3 linked regions of the Homo sapiens genome follow. The protein of the gene in region 2 interacts with the protein of the main gene of each other region in a biochemical or structural test. Each region holds a gene or a part of one and is shown on either strand. Other genes may lie near its edges.

Region 1 (7,022 bases), about 46 Mb from region 2:
TACTTTAGAAAAAATTAACATTAAAAATGATCAGATACACAGTTCTTTTATAGTGGTATTTTACTCAGTCTTCTAAGTTATGAAATATACAAATAATGATACAATGCAAAAAATAGTTTTCAACATTTGATGAAGCCTTGATATTGACATCAACAAATTTCTAATACAGCCTAACAGCAGTATGCAAAAGCTGTATCACCATATTAAGGATCAACAAACCTTTTCTCTAGGGTGCGGAGCCACAGGGGGGTTGGCGAGTGGAAAGGCAATACTGGGGGCTTGAGGCGTAGGGATCAGGTGGCTGTCTTTTATGGGAGTTTCCAGTTCTTCAGAGATTGGGTGTTTGGGAGCTTCAGTCACACGTATGTTTCCAGGATCACAGACAGCTGAGGACAATAAAATGCTGCAGTGTGACAGGATCCAAATAAGACTAAAAACAAATTCTAGGAAATATTCTCATCTGTCTTAGTCAAGATGAAGTCAAGCACAAACTCTGGAATGTAAAAAGTACAGGCAAAAAAGTATCCTATCCCCAGAACTTATAAATAAATGCATCCCATCTGCATGTGACAATAATAACAATAAAGAAAAAATGCAATTTATTAGCATTAAACAGAGCAAGTGTGTTATCTGTGGGCTTCTCCCAACATTTTCCTTAAATACCAAGTTTTCATTGTTAAGTGTAACCCAAATTTGTAACATGAGAGCAATTCTACACTTGGAGAAAAGCAGAAGCAGAGATAAATCTATATATCTAATGGGAGGTCATCATGCAATGTGAAAAAGAAGAAAAGGAAGAAAAAAGATGAGAGATAGGAAAATTTTGTTTTTAAGGTAAAGCTCAAGGAAGAAAAAAAATAGGAGAATTCAGAAAGAAACTCATACAATCCAAAGAACAAATGTAGGTATGTGCTAGGCAGAATTCAAAAGACTTAAATGAAAATAAGATGATAGGAAGAAAAACCAAGCATTAACTCCACAAACACAAAAAGGGTTAGCTAGAATAAAAGAACAATGGTAGACACCATGTCTAGAAAAAAACGCCCAATTCTAAATTTCCAAATTTATGAAAATGTTTTTCAATTTACTGATGAAGTACCTCAATTTACAAATTATTTTTCTGGCTCAAGTTTAAACCAAAACCAGAAATATCTACGAAGTTTTTTTTGTTTGCACATTCAGATCAGAGAACTACAACATGCTCATCTGTTTATTTTTAAGAGGTCAACATGTACTTAATACAAACAAATGCAAAGATTTCTTTCTTGTTACCCTGTTTAGCAATTTCTGAATCATGTAAAGGCTTTTGAAAAGGAGAATCCTCCAAGTTTTGAATGTCAACCTGAAGCTCAGAGTATTGTGTGGGACAACTAGGCCACTGCAAATTGCTGGCAAGCCTTGCTCTCTCCTCCCTTGCTGTAGGGTCATCCCAAATGATCTGTTCATTTTGGGAAGGCTCTGTGTTGACATCAGGTACTGTCTGACGAGACTGCCTAAGGAATAGAAGTGACAGTTTAAATAAACAGCAATAACAAATCCAAACTCATTAAATCCATAAGTTAGACCATAAAAGTTGTGGCTCACCTTTATATGCCCACCATCTAGCACACAGTATGCATTAAAAATATTAAATAAATGAACCTAGGGACATTTTTTTTTTTTAAAAAGGTTTAAGGTTTCTTCCAGAAAAGTTATCTGTTTTAGCTAGGAACACATATTTTGACTACATGTCTACAGAACTAAAACTTCAAAGGAGAAATTCAACAGTGTCAAGAAATTTTTTAAAAATACTAAAGTAATTGGTACATTTAAAAATGTGATTTTCCTTAATTATACAGGTTAGGGAAACAGGGTAATGTTTCAAACACTATGGTTACTTTACTTAACAGTAGTTATATTTTTTAATTACTTGAAATTATAAGCACTATGATTACATGGGAGGCTTGCTGTAAAGGCTGCCTTATCAGAAGGGCCTTTTGGCTATTGGTAACCACTTTCCAGAGTCTACGGTGGAACAGCAATATGCTGAATTACAGGGAAGTGCATTTTATGGTGCGATTGTAATGATTCCACGTGACAGTAAATAGAAGTCCTATAATTTTCTTTATATTCACTCATTCATTCATTCTTAGTAAAAATAATTTACCATAAAACTTACACTGTGGAGAAGCAAAAAAAAAAAAAACAAAAAACAAAAAACAAAACAAAACACCAAAACCCATAAAACAATTTACCAAAGGAACCCCCAAATAGTTCCTTTGCTTCAAAAATAAAGAATATAGCCTTTTATTCTCACACTATATTTATTTACTCTGATTTGGTACAGGATTTAGGTTCTCTATAATGATAAAACATGATCTGAAGCATATTAAAAAGCTACTTTACTCAGTACTGAGATAATGAACTGCCTCATGTAATACAGTTAGCGTAAGATAAATGCTAGTTTATCTTATACTTAATTCAATTAGTCAACTGAAAATACAAGTCCCATAATTCTTATCACACAATTATAGATTTTTTTCTTCTATCACGAAAAAGATGAAGTTATGCAACTGAGCTTAAGTCACATCACACTAGAAACTGTAATCACCTTTTCTAGAAGATAAATTTTACAAGGAGAATACAAAATGCATGCAAAATCCCAACAAAAATAACTTTAAGATTTTACATATTGCATTAGAAAAAGACTCTGAAAAAATATATATGTACTTATTGTTTAATACAAATACTATTGAATACTAATACTAAAGAGCAGAGAGAACTGCCTACTGAATCCATTTCAAATGAGGCAAATTAGATCTTAAAATCATTTCTTTCTCAACGGAGGTAATAAAAAGTATCAATCATGCCTCACTGTGAAGCAGGTGCTGCTGTAAGACAAATCTCCATGTCTGCTCCACCTCCGAGTAAGAAATCTAGAACTGCTGGGAGCAAGAAATGGAAGGACAAGCTAGAACGAAAAATCTAGTCAGCAGAGAGCCAAAAGCAATAGATAATACTGGAATATAATATTTACTGTTTGGGCTAAATAAGGCCTAGGCATATAACCCCTTCACTAGTCTTGATATTTAAATTTCAGCTTTTACTGCATATTGGGGAAAAAAAGAAAAAAAAGCTAAATTAGGCCAAGCTCATGGAATTGAGTCAGCAGCAGGTACGTAAATCCTTTCTCTCAAGTCATCTAGTCTTTCTGCCATCAGTGACAGGTACACACCTCAGTGCCTCTAGGACTCTACTTCGTCCACTGCGAGCAGAGCGAGTGCTGTCAGGGGTTGAAGATGCGCTGTTACAACCACTTCTTGAAAGGGAAGTCCTCTGCCCTTGGGGTTTCACTATTGATGTTGCAGACATTATCTCCTGTAACTGCTTCTGAAAGTTCTCTCTCATCTCTAAGGTCTGTGTCAGAACTTGAAACAAACACAAATACACCATTCAAGGTAAGTTCCTCTTTTTTACCATATCTTACATTAACTATTTTGTTTAGACCTGGTTGAACACAAACTTATTGACTTGACATTTACTGAATATTAACTACAGGCTATAGTAATGTACTAAAACTATGAATACTGCAGAACATAAAAAGCAGCCCTTACCACAAGCACTGTATATGAAATAACTAGGAAGCCCTTCAAATACTTTTTTTTTTTTTTTTTTGGTGATAGTCTAGCACTGTCGCCCAGGCTGGACAGTGGTGCGACCTCGGCTCACTGCAACCTCCACCTCCCAGGTTCAAGCAATTCTCCCTGCCTCAGCCTCTCAAGTAGCTGGGATTACAGGTGCCCATCACCATGCCGGGCTAATTTTTGTATTTTTTAGTAGAGACGCGGTTTCGCCACGTTGGCTAGGCTGGTCTTGAACTCCTGACCTCAGGTGATCTGCCCACCTCAGCCTCCCAAAGTGCTAGGATTACAGGCATGAGCCACCGTGCCTGGCCCCCTTCAAAGACATTTCATCAAGACCTGTAGTGATTATCCCTCTGTAAAGCTCCCTGCCTGCTTCTGACTCTCATGGTATGTACTACACTCTGAGATGTCTTATAGTCATTTGTGTATGTGTCTGATTTTTCCCAAAGATTCTTTTAATTTTTTAGAGACAGAGTCTTGCTCTGTGGCCCAGGCTGGACTGCAGTGGTATGGTCATAGCTCATTATAACCTCTAACTCCTGGGCTCAAGTGATCCTCCAGCCTCAGCAACCTGAGTAGCTGGCACTACAGGTGTACATTACCACGCCCAGCTAATTTTTTAAATTTTTTGTAGAGACAAGGTCTCACTATGTTGCCCAGGCTGATCTGGAACCCCTAGCATCAAGCAATCCTCTTGCCTTTGCCTCCCAAAGCTCTGAGATTACAGGTGTGAGCCACCGTGCCCAGACTCCCCAAAGGCTCTTGAAAACACAGACCACAACATACATCCAGCCCTCCACATCCACCGGTTCTGCATGCATGGATTCAACCAAGTATGGATCAGAAATATTTTAAAGACATAAAAATGAAAAATATCACAATTAAAAGTACCAGTAAAAAAAATAAAATATAACTATTTACAAAACATTTACAGTGCATTAGGTATTATAAGTAATCCAGAGATGATTTAAAGTATACAGGAGGATGTGCATTGGTTAAATTCAAATCCTATGTCATTTTATACATAAGGAACTTAAGCATCTGTGGATTTTGGTACCTGAGGTAAGTCCTCGGAACCACTGCCACATGGATACCAAGGGACAAGACAACTGTATTTACCTTTGGTTTTCTTTAAAGCCTAAACTCTGGAGTAAGTATTAAATAAATGCATTTGGAATGAACAGAGTGAGACTAACCAAATAGGTAAGTCATAGGGAAAGCTTTGGTAGGTTAGAATGAGTAAGGAAAACAGAACATATTAAATCTATTAAAAGACATCCATGTATAAGGTTATTCACTGCAGTACTATTTATAAAAGCAAGAAAGTAGAAATAACCTAAATGCCTATTAAGAATGGATGCCTAAACAAAGTGGGACCATTCATAATGAATACAATACAGTTGCCCAAAAAGAAAGAAAAGGGAAGAAAGAAGGAAAGGGAAAGGAAGGGAAGAGGGAAAGGAGAGGAAGGGGGACAGGAAGGAAAGGGAGGGAAGGAAGGAAGAAAAGCAAGAAAGAAAAAGACTAAAGAAGCTCCTAGTTATCTACTGATATAAAACACTACCCAAGGTAACAAAAAGATCAGCGTATGAAATAGCATGTATAGTAGTCCACCATTTATGTTTTTTTTTTTTTTTTTTTTTGAGACAAGAGTTTTGCTCTTCTTGCCCAGGCTGGAGTGCAATGGCATGATCTCGGCTCACCGCAACCTCCGCCTCCCGAGTTCAAGCGATTCTCCTGCCTCAGCCTCCCGAGTAGCTGGAATTACAGGCATGCAACCACCATGCCCGGCTAATTTTTTGTATTTTTAGTAGAGACGGAGTTTCTCTATGTTGGCCAGGCTGATCTCAAACTCCTGACCTTGGGTGATCTGCCTGCCTCAGCCTCCCAAAGTGCTGGGATTACAGACACGAGCCACCATGCCCAGCCTATGTGTTTGTTTGTTTTTTTTTAATGGGGGAAAAACATATTTACGGCTATATATGCATAAAGCAGCTCTAGAAGGATACATAAGGAACTAATAACACTGGGGGGCTGGAGAATAAGGGTGGAAGAAACTCTTCATATGTCTTTTTGTATCTTTAAAACCATGTGGATATGTTAAAATATATTGTACATATAAGAAAACTTTTTGAAAATCACTCAAAAGAACTGGACCAAAGACTAGATTTTTAAAAAATCACCAACTTCACCTACCTTTAATGGAATAGGGCTGTATCACACTAACTCCATAAAAACCTAGTTTCATAAATTTCATAAGCTTTACACTTAAACTACATAAAACTTTGCAAATTATCACTTAATGATCAGCATGGGACCACAAATCAATCCTCTAATATATGCTTTGCTTGTATTTAGTAATTTAAACATATTTTACAGCTGGGTGCAGTGGCTCACAAGGCAGGAGGATCCTTTCAGCCCAGGAGTTTCAGACCAGTGTGGGCAAGATGACAAGACCCCATCTCCACAAAAAATTGAGACCTTGTCTCAAAAAAAATTTTTTTAATTAAAAAATAAAATATTTTACCTCCTTTAGAGTCATTCTTTCCACTTCCATTTGATGGTGCTGACTCTTTATTATTGGTGGCCATATTGTCTACATCATTTTCTTCTAAAATCAAAGGATCTGGCTATTGAAAAAGAAAAATTATAAATTCTCAAACCAAGCCACTGTATAAGGTTTCATAGCAATATATGATTATACCTTTAGCTTAAGAGGGGGTAAATGTATCATCCATATCTCCTACCTCATCATCCTTTGTTGAAGACACAGCTGAGAGTAGTCGACTATTACAGAGCCGGCCATCTTGCACTGCGCTGATATCCAAGCTCATTTTGGGATTATAAGTATGTGGATAAAGAGATTCAGGAAGATGTTTACACTCTTGGGCACACTGCAATACAATGGTGTGCTTTAAGACAGGACTGACAAAATCTTAATGAATAGATGATGTTAAGTAGGATAAGGACAAGCAATACATTATACTGTAATATGGCAAAAAGTTCACAAAACTGGTTTGAAAAGTAGTTTACACTGAAAAATTTGCATCATACAAATGACAGATTGTCCTCATGTTTTAAATGTCATATCCACTGAAGTATAAAATCTGAAACCATTCCTGTGCTTTTGCAAAGGTATCAATTACCCTCCAGAGAATACCCAGGAAAAAAAAGAAACACAGATCTAAACTCTATTGATATGTTAAATTTTCCCCAAATAATTATAAACTTTCCATTCATATCACATTTTTAATTAGTACAAGGAAATGGAGAATTAGAAAGAGTATCCATTAAAGATTTGTTAAGTATTTAAGGACTAAAGATGTTAAGTTTTTGATGCCAAAGATCTGAAATGTGTACAGTTAACCAAGACTATTAAACTGGCTTCTAGTTCCATTG
Region 2 (7,330 bases):
TTCCACTCAGCTGGTTTTGGCCTTTTCCCTAAGACATCCCGTGGCACTTGTGGATTAAAGTTTCTGGCGTGTTTAGCACCAATGGATTTTGCTCTTTATGCTCCTTACAGTCATGCATGTATGAGATGGCACATAGTAGGTGCTGAAGAATCCCTTATTGGATTCATAGTATAGTGTTACATACCATAACAAAATACTGGCTGGGTGCAGTGGCTCACGCCTGTAATCCTGGCACTTTGGGAGGCCAAGGTGAGTGGATCACTTGAGGTCAGGAGTTCGAGAGCAGCCTAACCAACATGGCGAAACCCACCTCTACTAAAAATACAAAACTAGCCAGGTGTGGTGGCACACGCCTGTAATCCCAGCTACTTGGCAGGCTGAGGCAGGAGAATCACTTGAATCCAGGAGGCAGAGGTTGCAGTGAGCTGAGATTGTGCCATTGCACTCCAGCCTGGGCAACAAGAGCAAAACTCAAAAAAAAAACAAAACAAAACAAAAAAAACCTTCCCATTATCACGCACTGTGCTTTAAGATAAATATTATCAAACCTTCCCTTCCTCCCCTGAAACATAGATAATGAAATATACTGATTCATCAGCCTTGTAAATAATCCCAGTCTCCCCTAAGGAACTGCTGTGATATGATTGCAATCATCAGTCTACACTGGACGAGATGTTTCTAGAATAGTAACATTCTAGAAACACACACAGTAAGCTCCCAATAACTATTTGTGGAAATGAATTAAAACAATCAGCCTTTTTTCCCACACCTGTTATCCACTGCATTATGCAGCAAAAACTTCCAAGAGCAAAGTTTGTAAGCAGAACTTGAAGAAGAGCCCAAATCAAAACATGGGGAAAGTCATTTGACCCACTTTCCATGTTGTGCTATCCTAAAAAACTTAGGCCACTTTCTTCTTCCTGGAGGTAACAATCTGTCAATTGCTTAAGTTAGGACCATCATCCCTCTCCACCTTTAGAAGCTATTAGTGGGAACTGCCCAACACTGGCCATACAATCTGAAAATGGCATTTTCAAATAATTTATGGATAACATCCTAAAAAAGGACTGCCGATTGTCACACTCCACTCTGTGGATCTTTTCGAAAGAAAAAAAAAGTAAACAATCAAAAATTAAGTTAGGTTTCATCCCTCAAATGATATGGAGTTACCATAAATAAAAAAACTAAATGTCACAGAGAGGATACTAACTCTGATACTCCAGTGTGTGTCGAGCAAAAGTGCTTTGAAGCCAGCCAAAATCAACCCACAGATAATAAAGGAAACTTTGGAAATGTTGCCGCTCATTTGGACTTTTCTTTTCCCCTCTGACAATAGTCCACATGCTATGAATAAAATACATTAGACCATTGCGAGACCTGCCTCGGTCCATCCAATCCATGCGCCTCCCAATGCATTGAGATCTGCCGGGTGACATATGAGATCTAAAGTGGGTGGATAAAAATAACCTGGTCCTCAAAAAGACATGATAAACGCCAGACAGCTGAGTCACTTTGAAGCCCATTTTGACTTTTGAAAGGGACATTCACCCTCCTGCTGCTTCTCACACATTCACATAGAACCAGGTGAAAACCACCACCAACCGCCCCGGGTGGAAGGCGGCGATCCCTCTCAGCTTCCTCCTCATTCTCCGAGGTCACGACTCGGGATTGAACTTTTAATAATTTATACTTGCGCATGTCAGTCCAAGTGACTCATTTAGAAGGGCAAGGTGGGGAAGGCTTAAGAAAACCATCGCAATCCAGTAGATCCCCTATTTCTGCTGCCCGAGTGGAGGCACCGGAAGGTTTCGTCTGACATTTTTTTTTTTTTTTTTTTGAGACGGAGTCTCGCTCTGTCGCCCAGGCTGGAGGGCAGTGGCGCGATCTCGGCCCACTACAGCCTCCTCCTTCCCGGTTCAAGCGATTCTCAAGCCTCAGCCTCCCGAGTAGCTGGGACTACAGGCTCCCGCCACCGCGCCCGGCTAATTTTGGGGTTCTTTTTTAGTAGAGATGGGGTTTCGCCATATTAGCCAGGCTGGTCTCGAACTCCTGACCTCAAACGATCCGCCCGCCTCCGCCTCTTAAAAAGTGCTAGGATTTCAGACGTGAGCCACCGCGCCTGGCCCTGACATTCTAAAGACAAGAAAAGGAGTGGGGTGAAATGGGAACTGGTGGAAGAAAAGCTCAGAGAGCAAATCAGAATTGTCCAGAAGTGGGGATCCCTGAGCAAAGCAAGTGGTCCCAGAAAAAGAAGGGCTGTGTGTGTCCCGGGGTGTGGGGGGATCATCCCGTCCACCTACCCGCCCTGCGCTCTGCCCCGCGGAGGACGCAAACGATCTGCAACGTGCAGTTCGGAACAGGGAACTCTTGTATTTCATCTATCTTTAAACGGCGGCGGGGCTGTGTGCAAGCTGCTGGGAATCGGGCCCTTCCAGCCTGGGGAGGCTGGCGGAGCAAAACCACCAGCACGAGCCAGTCCTCGGCTGCAGCAGCCCTGGGGCGCTCACTAAGTGTCTGCCGAACTGCAGTGTTCCTGAGCCAACTCTGCCGCCCGGAGGAAGAGAAGAGGTCCCGGCCGCCACTGCGCATCTTCTCCCCCGGCTTCACGTGCCGCAGGCCGCCGGCCCCGCGACCCTCCCCCGAGGCGCCTCACTTACGGGAGAGTCGTAGGAGAAGGCGCACTCGTTCTTGTAGACCCTGTCGCCGGACCTGGGCACGCGGATCGTGGGCATGTGGGGCACTAGCAGCTCGCCGATGTCTCCTGCAGCCATCTTCCTGCCTCCGCTGCCGCCCGGCATGCCGAACAGGGCGCCCCGGCGCTGCATGGCCTCGGCGCGCACCGGAGCCGAGCGAGCCGAGCCGGAGCCGGAGCGCGGGGTCTGCCGGCGGCGGCGGCGCCAGCGAGCGGGCTGACGGGCGGGCTGCGCGGGCAACGGCAGCCGGCCGAGCCGGGGCGGGCGGGGAGAGCGGGCTGCGGGGCGGGAGCGGGCACCGCGGGCTTGGGGCGGACTGGCGACGCTATTTTTAATCCAATGGCGAGTCTCCGGCCCAGCTGCAGCGTCAGGCGGGGCTGGGGAGCGCCAGCCGCAGCGTGCCGGGGAGGGGGCGCTGGAGAGGGGCCCTGCGCGTGGGCCGGGCGCGGCGGCGGGGGGCGGAGGGCGAACCCCTGAGGCGTTGGCGCGGGAGCTCGAGCGGGCTGGCGGCCGAACGCGGCGCGGGAGGGCCCCGGGAAAACACCACGGAGGTGTTTTCTATCCCGAATTGTTGGCTTGCAGAGGGGCAACTCCGAGGAGGCCAACACAAAGAGCAGGATTGGGGGTTTTAAAAACCGCTTGCTTTTAAAACAGCCGAAGACTAGGGCGGTGACGTCCCCGGATTGGATAGGGGCGGGACTCGATGTGCAAATCTGAAATCTAACGTGAGGCTTAAATCTAAATTTGCGCCATGCACTTCAGTGCTTCCCCACTAAGCTTCGTTCCTTACTTTAACATCCAAGGCTCAAAAATAGAGCGAATAGAATAAGATCGAGTGAGGATAGAGGGTGTGTGTGTGGGGGAGGGCGGGGTGTGTGTGGGAGTGTGTGTGTAATAATAATACAGGTTTTCTTACATATTGGGGGAAGTCAGGGATGGTCAAGATTTTTTCAGGGCGTCGGAAGGCTTTCTATTTTTCTCTGCCTTTGGAGTATCTTCTATGTGATTCAAAGTTCTCATGTCGAACATTCAGTGGCCTGATTTGAGGATTTTGTAGGCAGGCATACATATTCCTGTCTTGATCATCAGTTCCTCAAAATAAATGATGAATGGGGTTGGCCTCGGGGGTTGATCATTTGCAAGCAGAGCATGTCTCCCAGCATACTCTCATTCTCTCCAAAAAACCCACAAGACGGGTTCAATGACATTGAGGTTCTCTAACTACACCCAACATATGTATTCATGACAGAGTATCCAGTGATCCCTGCCAGTTAATGAAATGCAGAAATAGCGAGAAATAGTGAACCAAAACGCTAATTTTTGTAAGCCTCTCTCAGATCAGATAGTCCTTAAGTTCTTTTTTTTTTCTTACTTTTTTTCTCTTTTAACTCTCCCTGGTTCTCCAGACCTATCTCAAGATTTCCATACCCTCAAGCAAGCCTCGAGCGCACCACACTTTCTTATAACTCAGCACTCCCAAATGCTATCTGTTGGAAAAGGAGGAGGTGGCACTGAGCAAAAAATCAGACACTACTGTCATCTTCCTCATTGGGCAGATCCTCTCAGCGAGCTTTTGCTTTGAATTTAGTCTCATCAGCTTATTACCTTTCACGTTAATGGATGATGTTTTCTCCAATTACAGAGATAAACTTGGTTTTACAAAACTTAAAATTTAATCTTAGATTAAATACAAATTAAATCAGTGAGACACTGTTTTTCATCCTTTGGGCTGGTAAAGATATATTGAGTTAGCATGGGTTTGGGAAGTAGACCCTCATTACATTGTTGGTGGGGATAAAAACGATAAACCTCTTTGGAAGGAAATGTAATAATACCAGTCATAACTTTATATGTGCATACTGTTTTCCCCAGCATTTCCTTGTCTAGACATTTATGCAACAGATAAATTAAGGCTGTGTAAAGATATTTGTTAGAGCACTGTTTCGAGTAACAAACGTCTGGGGAAAACCTAAAGATCCTTCTGTAGAAAGTGGTTAAAATACAGTACCATTGAAAAGAATGAAGTTGCTCTACGTGTGCTGATGTGGAACAATCTCCAAATTATTACTAGATGATAAAAGCAATTTAAGCAAACTAGTGTATAAAAGCAAGGAATACATGCAAGGCTGATAATATGCAGTAGGCATTTTGGCACATCCTATATACCATGGGCCTTCATTCCAGTTGGTTGTACTTGTAGTAAATATTTTTAATGTAGCCCCTTAAAATATACATATGTGTATGCATGCCCACTTGTTTGGCTTTAGGATGTCTCTAGAGCAATACACAAGAAACTAGTCAGGCTCTGTGGAGAAGAACTGAAAGCCTGAGGTTAAGGGAGAACTTACTACCTGGTATGGTAGGGCTGTGTCCCCACCCAAATCTCATCTTGAATTCCCACGTGTTGTGGGAGAGACCCAGTAGGTGGTAATTGAATCATGGGGGCAGGTCTTTCTCGTGCTGTTCTTGTGATAGTGAATAAGTCTCACAAGAGCTGATGGTTTTACAAACGTGAGTCTCCCTGCACAAGCTCTCTCCAGTTGTCTGCCTCCATCTGAGACGTGCCTTTCACCTTCCACCATGATTGTGAAGCCTCCCCAGCCACATGGAACTGTAAGTCCAATAAAACTTTCTTTTGTAAATTGCCCGGTCTCAGGTATGTCTTTGTCAGCAGCGTGAAAACAGATTACTACACTACCACTTTGTAGCTTTCTGTATGATTCCATTTGTATTATGTGCAAGTATTGCTTTTTCCCCCCCTTTCTTTTTGGAGATGGAGTCTCCCTCTGTCGCCCAGGCTGGACTGCAATGGCGCGCTCTCAGCTCACTGCAACCTCCGCCTCCTGGGTTGAAGCGATTCTCCCGCCTCAGCCTTCCAAGTAGCTGGGACCACAGATGCACGCCACCACGCCAGGCTAATTTTTTGTTGTTTTTTTTTTTTTTTTTTTGTAGAGACGGGGTTTCGTCACGTTGGCCAGTCTGGTCTCCCACCTCGGCCTCCCAAAGTGCTGGGATTACAGGCGTGAGCCACCGCGCCCGGCCTCAAGTATTGCTTTAAAAGTTAATTAAAACTCAGCCATCGCTCTCCAACACCAGCGCCGCCTGTCACTCGCCACGCTCCAGCAGAAGAACGGGTCTAAGTAAGGAGGTCACTATACCATGGCTGGTACAAAGCTGACTGCCCAAAAATCAATTGGTGGTAAAGAACCCAGGAAGCAATCCCAGCACTTTGGGAGGCCGAGGCGGGTGGATCACGAGGTCAGGAGTTCAAGACCAGCCTGGCCAAGATGGTGAAACCCTGTCCCTAGTTAAAATACAAAAAAAAAAAAAAAAAAAAAATAGCTGAGCGCGGTGGCAGGCGCCTGGAGTCCCAGCTACTCGGGAGGCCGAGGCAGGAGACTCGCTTGAACCTGGGGGGCGGAGGTTGCAGTGAGCGAAGATCGCGCCACTGCACTCCAGCCTGGGCGACAGAGTGAGACTCCGTCTCAAACAAAAAAAAAAAAAAAACAAAAAGCAAAAAAAAACAAACAAAAAAAACTCCAGGAAGCAACTAGCTACAAACGCCGCAAGAGTGCGCCCTCTACTGGACGGGTGAAGAAACCTCATCATTACAGACCTGGTACTGTGGCACTCGTGAAATTAGACGTTATCAGAAGTCCACTGAACTTCTGATTCGCAAACTTCCCTTCCAGTGTCTGGTGCGAGAAATTGCTCAGGACTTTAAAACAGATATGCACTTCCAGAGTGCAGCTGTTGGTGCTTTGCAGGAGGCAAGTGAGGCCTACCTGGTTGGTCTTTTTGAAGACACCAACCTGTGTGCTATCCATGCCGAACATGTAACAATTATGCCAAAAGACATCCAGCTAACACACCACATACCTGAAGAATGTGCTTAAGAATCCACTATGCTGGGCACGGTGGCTCACGCCTGTAATCCCAGCACTTTGGGAGGCCGAAGCGGGCGGATCACCTGAGGTCGGGAGTTCGAGACCAGCCTGACCAATATGGAGAAACCCCATCTCTACTAAAAATACAAAACCAGCCAGGTGTGGTGGCGCATGCCTGTAGTCCCAGCTACTCAGGAGGTTGAGGCAGGAGAATCGCTTGAACCTGGGAGGCAGAGGTTGCAGTGAGCCGAGATCGCGCCATTGCACTCTAGCCTGGGGCAAGAAAAGCGAAACCCTGTCTCAGAAAAAAAAAAAAAAAAAAAAAGAAGCCACTATGATGGGAAACACTTCATTCTAACACACACACACACACACACACACACACACACAATTTCTTTTACCTGTTGTTGGTAGTTCTGAACGTTATCTATTTTTTTTTTCCCATGGGGTCAAAACGTACTAAGTATATATGATTGCGAGTGGAAAAATAGGGGACAGAAATCAGGTATTGGCAGTTTTTCCATTTTCATTTGTGTGTGAATTTTTAATATAAATGTGGGGACGTAAAGCATTAATGCGAGTCAAAATGTTTCAGTGAACAAGTTTCAGCAGTTTAACTTTATAATAATTATAATAAACGTGTTAAATTTTTCTGGACAATGCCAGCATTTGGATTTTTTTAAAAACAAGTAAATTTCTTATTGACGGCAACTAAATGGTGTTTGTATCATTTTTATCATACAGTATATT
Region 3 (7,932 bases), on a different chromosome or scaffold from region 2:
TACCCTCACATGAGGCAGAGATCCTGGTAACCTTCCCAAGAACCCTCAGCTTGCACAGCCATCTCCCCCTCTCTGGGGCTCGCCTGTTTCACTCGGGGAGATTGGGCTTCTAAGGAAGCTCTTCAGTCTATGGAGCTAAAACCAGCCCCTCCCTCCCTCAGATTCTCCCTGGGGGGCCACAGGGACCCTGGCCCTTCCTTCACCTCCAGCAGTGTCCCTAGCCACCCCCAGCATATGCCTCTCAGGCAACACCCTGCACCCTTCCAGGGGCACCATTCAGAGACATCTCTGTTCAACACCGCAGCCTTGCTGGGGACTCCATTTCCCTTTCTCCTCTGGGTGCCCCAGACCCCGGAAAGCCTCCCTGAGAATATGGCACCAGATGTGGACACCAGCTCTGGGCATTCTGGAGCTTCAGCCTGCTAAGGGGATCTTGCTAGCTCAGGGGACCTCCTTTCAGCTACAGAAAGCCCAGGAAGAAGGAATGGGGGAGGACAGGGCCTCACTTTCTGCTTTAGGGACCAGCCAAGTCCCAGCTTGTGCTCCCGCCTCTGCAGCACCAGGGCTTGCTCCGACAGGGCCTCCGGCACTGCCCGAAGACGGCTTGCCAGCTCGGCCCTCTGCTGCCTGCTTTCTGCCAGCTGCTCCCACAGGTCCTTCTCTGCCCGCCTCCAGTCCCGCTCGGGGGCCCTGTTGGAGCACATGCCAGGGAAAGAGGAGCCAGACTTCAGCCCAGGCCCCAGGGGGCTGCCATGCCCAACTTTCCTATGCTCACCTGCACCCTTCAGTGGGGCTTGGTGGGCAGACACGGTCCAATGCCCCGAGGAAATAGGAGTTCCAGAGACAGCGGGCAGGGCTGGGCATCAAGTCCATGGGCTCTGCCTCAGTGGGACCTGAGAACAGGACAGATCCTGGAGCTGGGGTAGTCTTGGCTTCCCAAAGCACCAGGCTCTGAGGCCTCTTCTCAGACTCAGAATTGAGGCCCTTTGGCTGAGCACGCACTAAAACCCTTCAACCCTGATCCTCTGGCCCGAAAGTCTCCTGGTGATTGGAACTTCACTAAACACCAGCCTCAACTCCACTAAACAGTTCTCAGTTCCCAGTGGTTTCCATGAGCTGTGGGTGCTGCCAGGGGTGGCCACTTGCTGAACACAAACCCCATTATCCTCACAGCAGCTGGTCTGGGGAGGCGCAGCAGGCACTCCTGAGGGGAAATTGGTGCCCAAGTCCGGCAGGGAGTCCCGTGAGGAGCTGCAATCCCCACCCAACACTGTCTGCACCAGAGCCACGTTCCCCCTTCCAGTGTGGAAGTCTGGAAATGGCAGGGGAGCATTTGGGGGCCACCACAGTTTAGCTATGATGTGGGGGTCAGAGCCCTTAAGTCAAGTCACTGCTCAGGTACCTCTCTGGCTTCCATAGCTTCAGCTGTAATATGGAGGCCCTGACGGACCTCTCACCCACCAGCTTGGTGAGGAAGGTCAGAGGGTAGACAGGGGCTATTCTGCCAGTGTTGCCATCCCTACACCCCTCACCATCACCCTCCTCACCTCTAGGGTCTGGGCCCAAGTCCACTGCCTCCCAACTCCCAACCCTGGGCACGAGGCACCCTGCCCTGGCTCTGAAAGGGCACAGGAGTTGTCTTCACCTAAGCAGTGGTTACACCTAGCACCTCTACCACCCCCACCCTGACCTCCCCACTCCTCACATTCCCAGGCCTTCTCCACTCAGGATGGCACCATCGCCCACCAGGCCTTCTCCCCACTGGACAGCTTGACTCTCCTCTCCCCTTACTCCAGGCCCAGGCTCCTGCAGCCCCCTCCAAAATTGTCTCCCCTCCAAAATGTCACTGCCACACAAGGCTTCTCTAAGACAGACCATGAGGACTGGCCGCTGCCCCCACCTCCCATACTGGGTACAGCTCCCACAATGCCACTCTACCTGGGTGCTCTGTCTTGCCAGTTAGAAGTGACAGGCTTTCCATGGCAGCCCCCTGCCCTTAGTGAGAAGCTGAGCTGTGCCCAGCTTGGTCCGGGAGGGGCTCATGGTCCACAGAATGGAGTGCACATGCAGGCCAGATTGTCCTGAGCAGGGGGGCAGGCCAGGGCAGCCCCAGGAAGGCTTTCCAGGGAGGTGACCCTGGGGCCAAGGCTCAGAGGTGAATTAACTGCCTCCAGAGAAGGCAAAGTCAGATGAGGCAGACAGAGGAGACAGTAAGGACAATAGAACAAGGAGGGCATCAGAGCAGCTGGGCCTGGCGGGCAGTGAACTGAGCCCTAAGCTTGGTGGAAGTGGAGGTGGGGGGCAAAAGGGAGACCAAAAGGGGTGAGAGGAGCTGTGGGGTTTGGGAGGATGCAGGGCAGCGGCACCTCCCCAGTGCCCTTGAGATATGCTACAGACCTCAACTCCACAGAGGCTGAGGACCCAGACAGGAGCTTGGGCCTGAGGGGCAGTGGAGGTGGAGCAAGCCTCCTCTGAGGTGGGGATGGGAGTGGAGGAGTTACCCAAACCTCACCTGGGGGCAGATCTTTCTCCAAGTTTCTGAAAGGTGTGAAAGTCACAAAAGAATGAAGCTCTAAGGGTAGAATCTCAGGCAGGATGGCCTCCAGGCTGCAAAGTGTGGAGAGGGAGACAGCTGGGAGATGGCTTCTGTTCCACCTCAGAAAAAGAGAGTTGCTTCGTGGCTGGGAGGTAGGGACTCCTGGATTCTCAGTGGTGGGCAGTTTTGTGGGAAGGTGACTAACTTACCCCATCAGAGCCTATAGCTCAGGGCAGGGCTGGGGACAGAAGCTTCTCTGAGAACATCCATCCCGGGGACAGAAGCTTCTCTGAGAACATCCATCCCTCAGGGCTAGTATCCTGGAGCCATGGAAACTCAGGCAACACTAAGTGGTGGGAGGAGGAGACACCAGAGAGGCCTCCTACTCCACCTCATCTGAGCTGATGAAACCCCGAGATGGAACCTGGCTAGTGTGGTCGAGGCCATGGGTACCAGGCAGGAATGGCATCTCAGATGGCCTGGGATTTTTCAAAATCTTCAGCTTTTGAGATAGGACCTTAGGGGGCAGGACCTCAGCAGCCAATCTGGGTCACCCACTGTACACTGAAGCGGCTCCTAACTTTCTTTTTTGAGACGGAGTTTTGCTCTCTTGCGCAGGCTGCAGTGAAGTGGCGCGATCTCGGCTCACTGCAATCTCTGCCTCCCGGGTTTAAGTGATTCTCCCACCTCAGCCTCCCGAGCATCTGGGACTACAGGCGCGTGCCACCACGTCTAGCTAATTTTTGTATTTTTAGTAGAGACGGGGTTTCGCCATGTTGGCCAGACTGGTCTCGAATTCCTGACCTCAGGTGATCATCCACCTCAGCCTCCCAAAGTACTGGGATTAGAGGGGTGAACCACCGCGCTTGGCCGATTTTTTGTTTATTTTTTGAGACAGGGTCTCCTTCTGTCGACCAGGCTGGAGTGCAGTGGTGTGATCATAGCTCACTGCAATCTCAACCTCCTGGGATCAAGCGATCCTCCTGCCTCAGTCCCCTGCAAGGAGCTGGAACTACAGGCATGCGCCACCCAGTCCGGCTAATTTTTGTAATTTTTTGGAAGGGGACCCAGTTTTGAATTAGCTTCTGTTGTTTACTTCGGATAGCCATGGTGGAGCTGGCAGAGATTTAGGGGATACTAAACACCCCTACAAATCACGCCTTGAAACCCCCCGTTTCAGGGAGAGCCGCTGGCGAAGGACTTGATGCGCAGCCGCAGCTCGGAAGCGGGGGGCTCCCCTGCGACACCTCCCCGCTTCAGGGGCGGGCCCAGACCCGCGGGGAGGGGCATGGGCGGGGCCGCGGCTGGCTGGCGGCCGCCGGGGCGGTGCTGGGGAAACCCTTGGCGCCCCCGCGGAGCGGTCCCAAGGAGGGGGCGGTGCCTGGAGGGATGGTCCGCCCCGACTGCGGGTTTCTAGCCCTCGCGTGGCGTGGGGACAATTAGGCGCCACGCCCTGTCGCTTCACTGCGCGACGCTCGCGAGGCCGGGGACGCCACTCCCAGACCGGGCGGGACGCGCACGCTCACAGTGAGGTCTCAAAAGATCCCCACCTCAGTTTTCTCATCTGGAAAGTGGGGCCTCGTAATCCTGTCCGACCCGGCGCGGGACAGTAGGTGTCAGGGATTTTGGTGACCCCACGCTCGAGGCCTCTGCAAAAGGGGGCTGTCCAGTGGCCCAGAGACGCAGCCGGCGGGGCTTTTGTCTAGCGGGGGAGTCTTAACTGAGAGGCCACGCAGGCCGGCAGGAAGCCGCTCCACAGGAGGGGGCTCAAGGAGAGGGGATCTCCTCCCTCCAGACTCCGGCCCCGCCAGAGTAGCTCTAGGGTATCTTCCCAGAAACTGCCCCGCACGCACTGGCGAGCTGGGAGCGCCACCACGGCTTTCAAAAAACCCGCACACACCAAGATAATAATGTGTCGTTCGCTCGTTTCGCGCAAGCGGAGTCGCGTCCGCCTTCCCGAGCTCCGGCACACAGACCTCAGGCCGCTCTCGCGCTCTCCGGGGCCCCGAGAACAATGCCCGTCCTCTCCGCGCGCAGGAGGGAGTTGGCGGACCACGCGGGGTCGGGGCGACGGAGCGGGCCCAGCCCCACGGCCAGGTCGGGGCCCCACCTCTCGGCTCTGAGAGCCCAGCCGGCCCGGGCCGCGCACCTGTCAGGTCGGGGGACCTACGTGCGCCGCGACACGGCGGGAGGCGGGCCGGGCCAGGCTCGTCCCCTCGGCCCTCCCGGAACTAGTCTCCTAGGCCGCGGCGCCCGCCGGAGCGGAGAGGGCTGGTGCCCCGGAGCCTTCGAGTCGGGGGCTAGAGCGGCCAGGCCTCCGAGCCGGGTCGAGCCGAGGCTGGCGACGGCTGCGTCACGCGAGGGGGCGGGGCTGCCACGGGCGGAGGTCGCAGCCGGAAGCGGAAGAGGCGCTCGGAGCGGGGAGTGGGGCCTAGCTGCAGCCGGAGCCTGGGAGACGGTAAGTGTGGGCTGGGGTCCGCGGCGGCGACAGCGGCGGCGGCGGCCGGGGGTGAGTCGGCGGGGCAGGCGCGCTGGTGCCATTCGGTCTCGGCCTACTCCCTTTCTTTCTCCTCTTCGGCCCATATCGGGCCGCGACCTCTCACCCCTGACCCGCTGCTTCTGCCCCGGAGGGCGGTCACTGCAGACCCTGACCTCGACCCCACGGTGTTGAAGGCGGAGCCTGAACGGCCTCTGGGGCCGCTCAAGGGTCCAGTTTGGGCTCTGTGCCTGCCCGCGGAATGGGGTCGGGGTCCGACGTAGAAGAGCCAGAGAAGCCCTTCAGACCCCTCCCCTACCCCTGGCTTCAGGCTTAGTCCGCAGATGACTCCTCCCTTGGCGGCCTGGAGTTTGATTCTGGCCCAGTCCGGCTTTCCCTCTGTCCCCGGGTCTCCCCTCGGCGCCACTGGTGGCGGTTACAGGGGATGGGACTCTGAGACCCCCTGGGACCTGGGGCGGCAGGAAGGGACGCGAACGAGGGCGCAGGCTCCCCTGTGTGTTTTGTTGTGGTGGTAGAGCCACTCCAGCCCGGAGGATGGGCTAGGCCAAGCTGACAGTTCAAATCCCCTGGCTGCTCCTCCGTCCCGCCCGGGAGTCTCTAGCTTTAGTTCCGGGTGTGGGTGCCCTGATGTGGAGCTGGGGTGGAAATTGCCTGAACCAGGCCCCCATCAGAGGCGGAGTTGGCGGCCTTCCAGCTTCCCTTCTTGATGCCCTTGAAAAGGAGGAGCGTTTCACCGTTGGTGGTGGAGGCTTGCGAGGTGGCAGGTTTGAGGTTGCAGTGGTAGGGCAGTCCAGCCAAAAATAACCATGGGTGCTGGGGTGGCTGGAATCCGGGAGGGCAGCCGCTGACCTGGCTGGCTGCACTTCTAGTCAGCCCAGTTCTCTGGCCAGGAACAGCAAATGAGAAGCCGACAAGGCCTGTGCTCAAAGTTGACATCCTTGGCTTGGTTTTCTTCATATCACCTTTTTCCTCATTGTGCAGAGCAGAGCTTCCCAAAGCATAATTGTGGCCTTTAGCTGCTTTTTAAACAAGCTGTTTGCTGAGGTTTTCGAGAATCAGAGATAATTGAGAAATGGGCCCTAGAGCCCTGGCTGGGAGGATGATATCTGCTATTTCCAATATTTTACTTGCCTAGAATGTGTTAAAGGAAGGATACTCTTCTCTGTTATTGCTTTGTGTGTGGTACCTTATAACTCTCATGCTTGTCATCTCTTTTGCCAGGCTGAGAGATGTTATCTCCATTTTCCAGGCATGCTAACCAAGGCCTAGAGTGACTTGTCTAAGGTCATGAGGCTGGTATGTGACAGCACTAGGATTTAGTTTAGTTTTCTGCCAGAGCTCTTGCCTCCCAGTTTCCTTGGAAGGGACTTATAAAATGTCTGTAAGGCATTTAACACAGCCCTGAAGTGTTACCTGGAACTTTCAGATGTTCATGAAAAGCTGCCACTAGTACCTCTGTGGGCACAAAGCTGTGCTAGGCATTTCACTTATAGGAGAGAGATATTTAATCCTCACAGAACCTTGTAAGAGATTACTATTCCCTTGTTGCAAGATGAAGCTGACGGTCAGAGTAGTGTAATAATTTGTTCAAAGGCACACAGCTAGAAGTGGCAAGCCATGATTCAGATTGACATCTATATGACTCTGAAATTTTGTTTTCCATTGATGTGAATATGTATGGACATAAGAATCTTCTAGGTCCCAGGAGGTAGTCTTTGGCGTGGTGTGACTGTGACTGTGTCCTCCAGCTCTGGTGTTTGTCTGCCCAGTGAGGATGGGCAGGACCATACTTGCCTTGTGGCACGACATGTGCCCTGGCCAATAGAGCATCTTCTGGGTCAATTAGTGGGGTGTGAGTTCCTGCTTTCATTCCATAGCTTGGGCACCTGACCCAGAGTAATTGCAGGAAAACAGTGAAATATTAGTCAGCTGATTACCAAAACAACAAATCTAAGCTTTTGGGGAGGTGATTTCACAAAATATTTATCTCCAAAGACTTCCCAGGTACACGGGGGAAGACAAGTTAGTGGGGAGATGGAGGGCTTTCTTAGGGACACGGAGAGGCTCCCAGGGGTTTGGTCACATAGGCCTCACTGTCCTGCTCAAGCATGGGGAGCTGTTCTATGCTGCTTTTCTCCTGACAGACCCTGCTGGTGAGATGGGGCAGCCTCAGTGGGTTTGTACAAAATGTGCTTGGCCAGGCAAGCTCAGGACTGACCATGACTGGAGGTTGGCTGTGGCCAAGTGTGAGTGTTGGGAAGAAGGCTGGCTCCATGGAGGCAGTCAGGGATTGACGTATGGGTGGAGCAGGTTGCTGGCCTCACATGGCCAGCTTTCTCCGCTGGTGGCAGATCCAGCCTGGCAATTTCATTTGGTGGATATAAGTCCTCACTGAACAGGGATAGTGAGGTGGGGCTCTTTTACCTGCCAGATGGCTAACCCTCTGGCTATCCTGGGATAGGCGGAGGGTAGGATACTAGAGCCAGAGAGCTAGAAGAAGGGACAGTAACGGTACTGTTGGATAAAGGCAAGGCACCTGGCAGGGCACTGTGGGGGTCTAAAAGGGTGCTAAATGGGCCTCTGGAAAGAAAGTTAGATGCGCTGGGTCCACGTCCCCTTGGGTTGACCCTCAGGAGGGCTATGGAATGTTTGTGAGGCCTGTGTGCCTCTTTCTCCAAGGGCTGCTCTTCTAGTCTCTTGTGGCTCCTCATGCTCACTTGTGGTCCTTACTCCCTTGAGTGGGGTCCAGTTCAGGGCCCTAGCCAGACAGCGTTCAGCTTCTCAAACTTGAGGGCTTTGAGCCCTCGCCTCCTGTGTACAGCCCTTTGCCTGGCCTTTGGCTTTACAGAGCATTCACTTCACGGGACCGCCCCCCCGGGCGGGAGGGAATAGAGTGCAG

What was found. Proteins that work in one complex are often made in the same cells at the same time.
Region 1: of the proteins of USP13 (region 2) and TOPBP1, one has a biochemical effect on the other in vitro, tested with the Homo sapiens proteins (one study listed by BioGRID).
Region 3: the proteins of USP13 (region 2) and CLK3 form a complex in vitro, tested with the Homo sapiens proteins (one study listed by BioGRID).

The regions. Positions count from the first base shown.
Region 1 is NC_000003.12:133,616,941-133,623,962, forward strand, and holds part of TOPBP1 (DNA topoisomerase 2-binding protein 1), read right to left. Parts: intron 6,518-7,022; coding exon 6,371-6,517; intron 6,254-6,370; coding exon 6,151-6,253; intron 3,408-6,150; coding exon 3,215-3,407; intron 1,494-3,214; coding exon 1,273-1,493; intron 387-1,272; coding exon 220-386; intron 1-219. UniProt on the Homo sapiens protein: Scaffold protein that acts as a key protein-protein adapter in DNA replication and DNA repair. Composed of multiple BRCT domains, which specifically recognize and bind phosphorylated proteins, bringing proteins together into functional combinations.
Region 2 is NC_000003.12:179,648,721-179,656,050, reverse strand, and holds the start of USP13 (ubiquitin carboxyl-terminal hydrolase 13), read right to left. Parts: upstream 3,012-7,330; 5' UTR 2,826-3,011; coding exon 2,658-2,825; intron 2,394-2,657; exon of another isoform or gene 2,379-2,393; coding exon of another isoform or gene 2,301-2,378; intron 1-2,300. UniProt on the Homo sapiens protein: Deubiquitinase that mediates deubiquitination of target proteins such as BECN1, MITF, SKP2 and USP10 and is involved in various processes such as autophagy, endoplasmic reticulum-associated degradation (ERAD), cell cycle progression or DNA damage response.
Region 3 is NC_000015.10:74,610,905-74,618,836, forward strand, and holds the start of CLK3 (dual specificity protein kinase CLK3), read left to right. Parts: upstream 1-4,931; 5' UTR 4,932-4,994; intron 4,995-7,932. UniProt on the Homo sapiens protein: Dual specificity kinase acting on both serine/threonine and tyrosine-containing substrates. Phosphorylates serine- and arginine-rich (SR) proteins of the spliceosomal complex.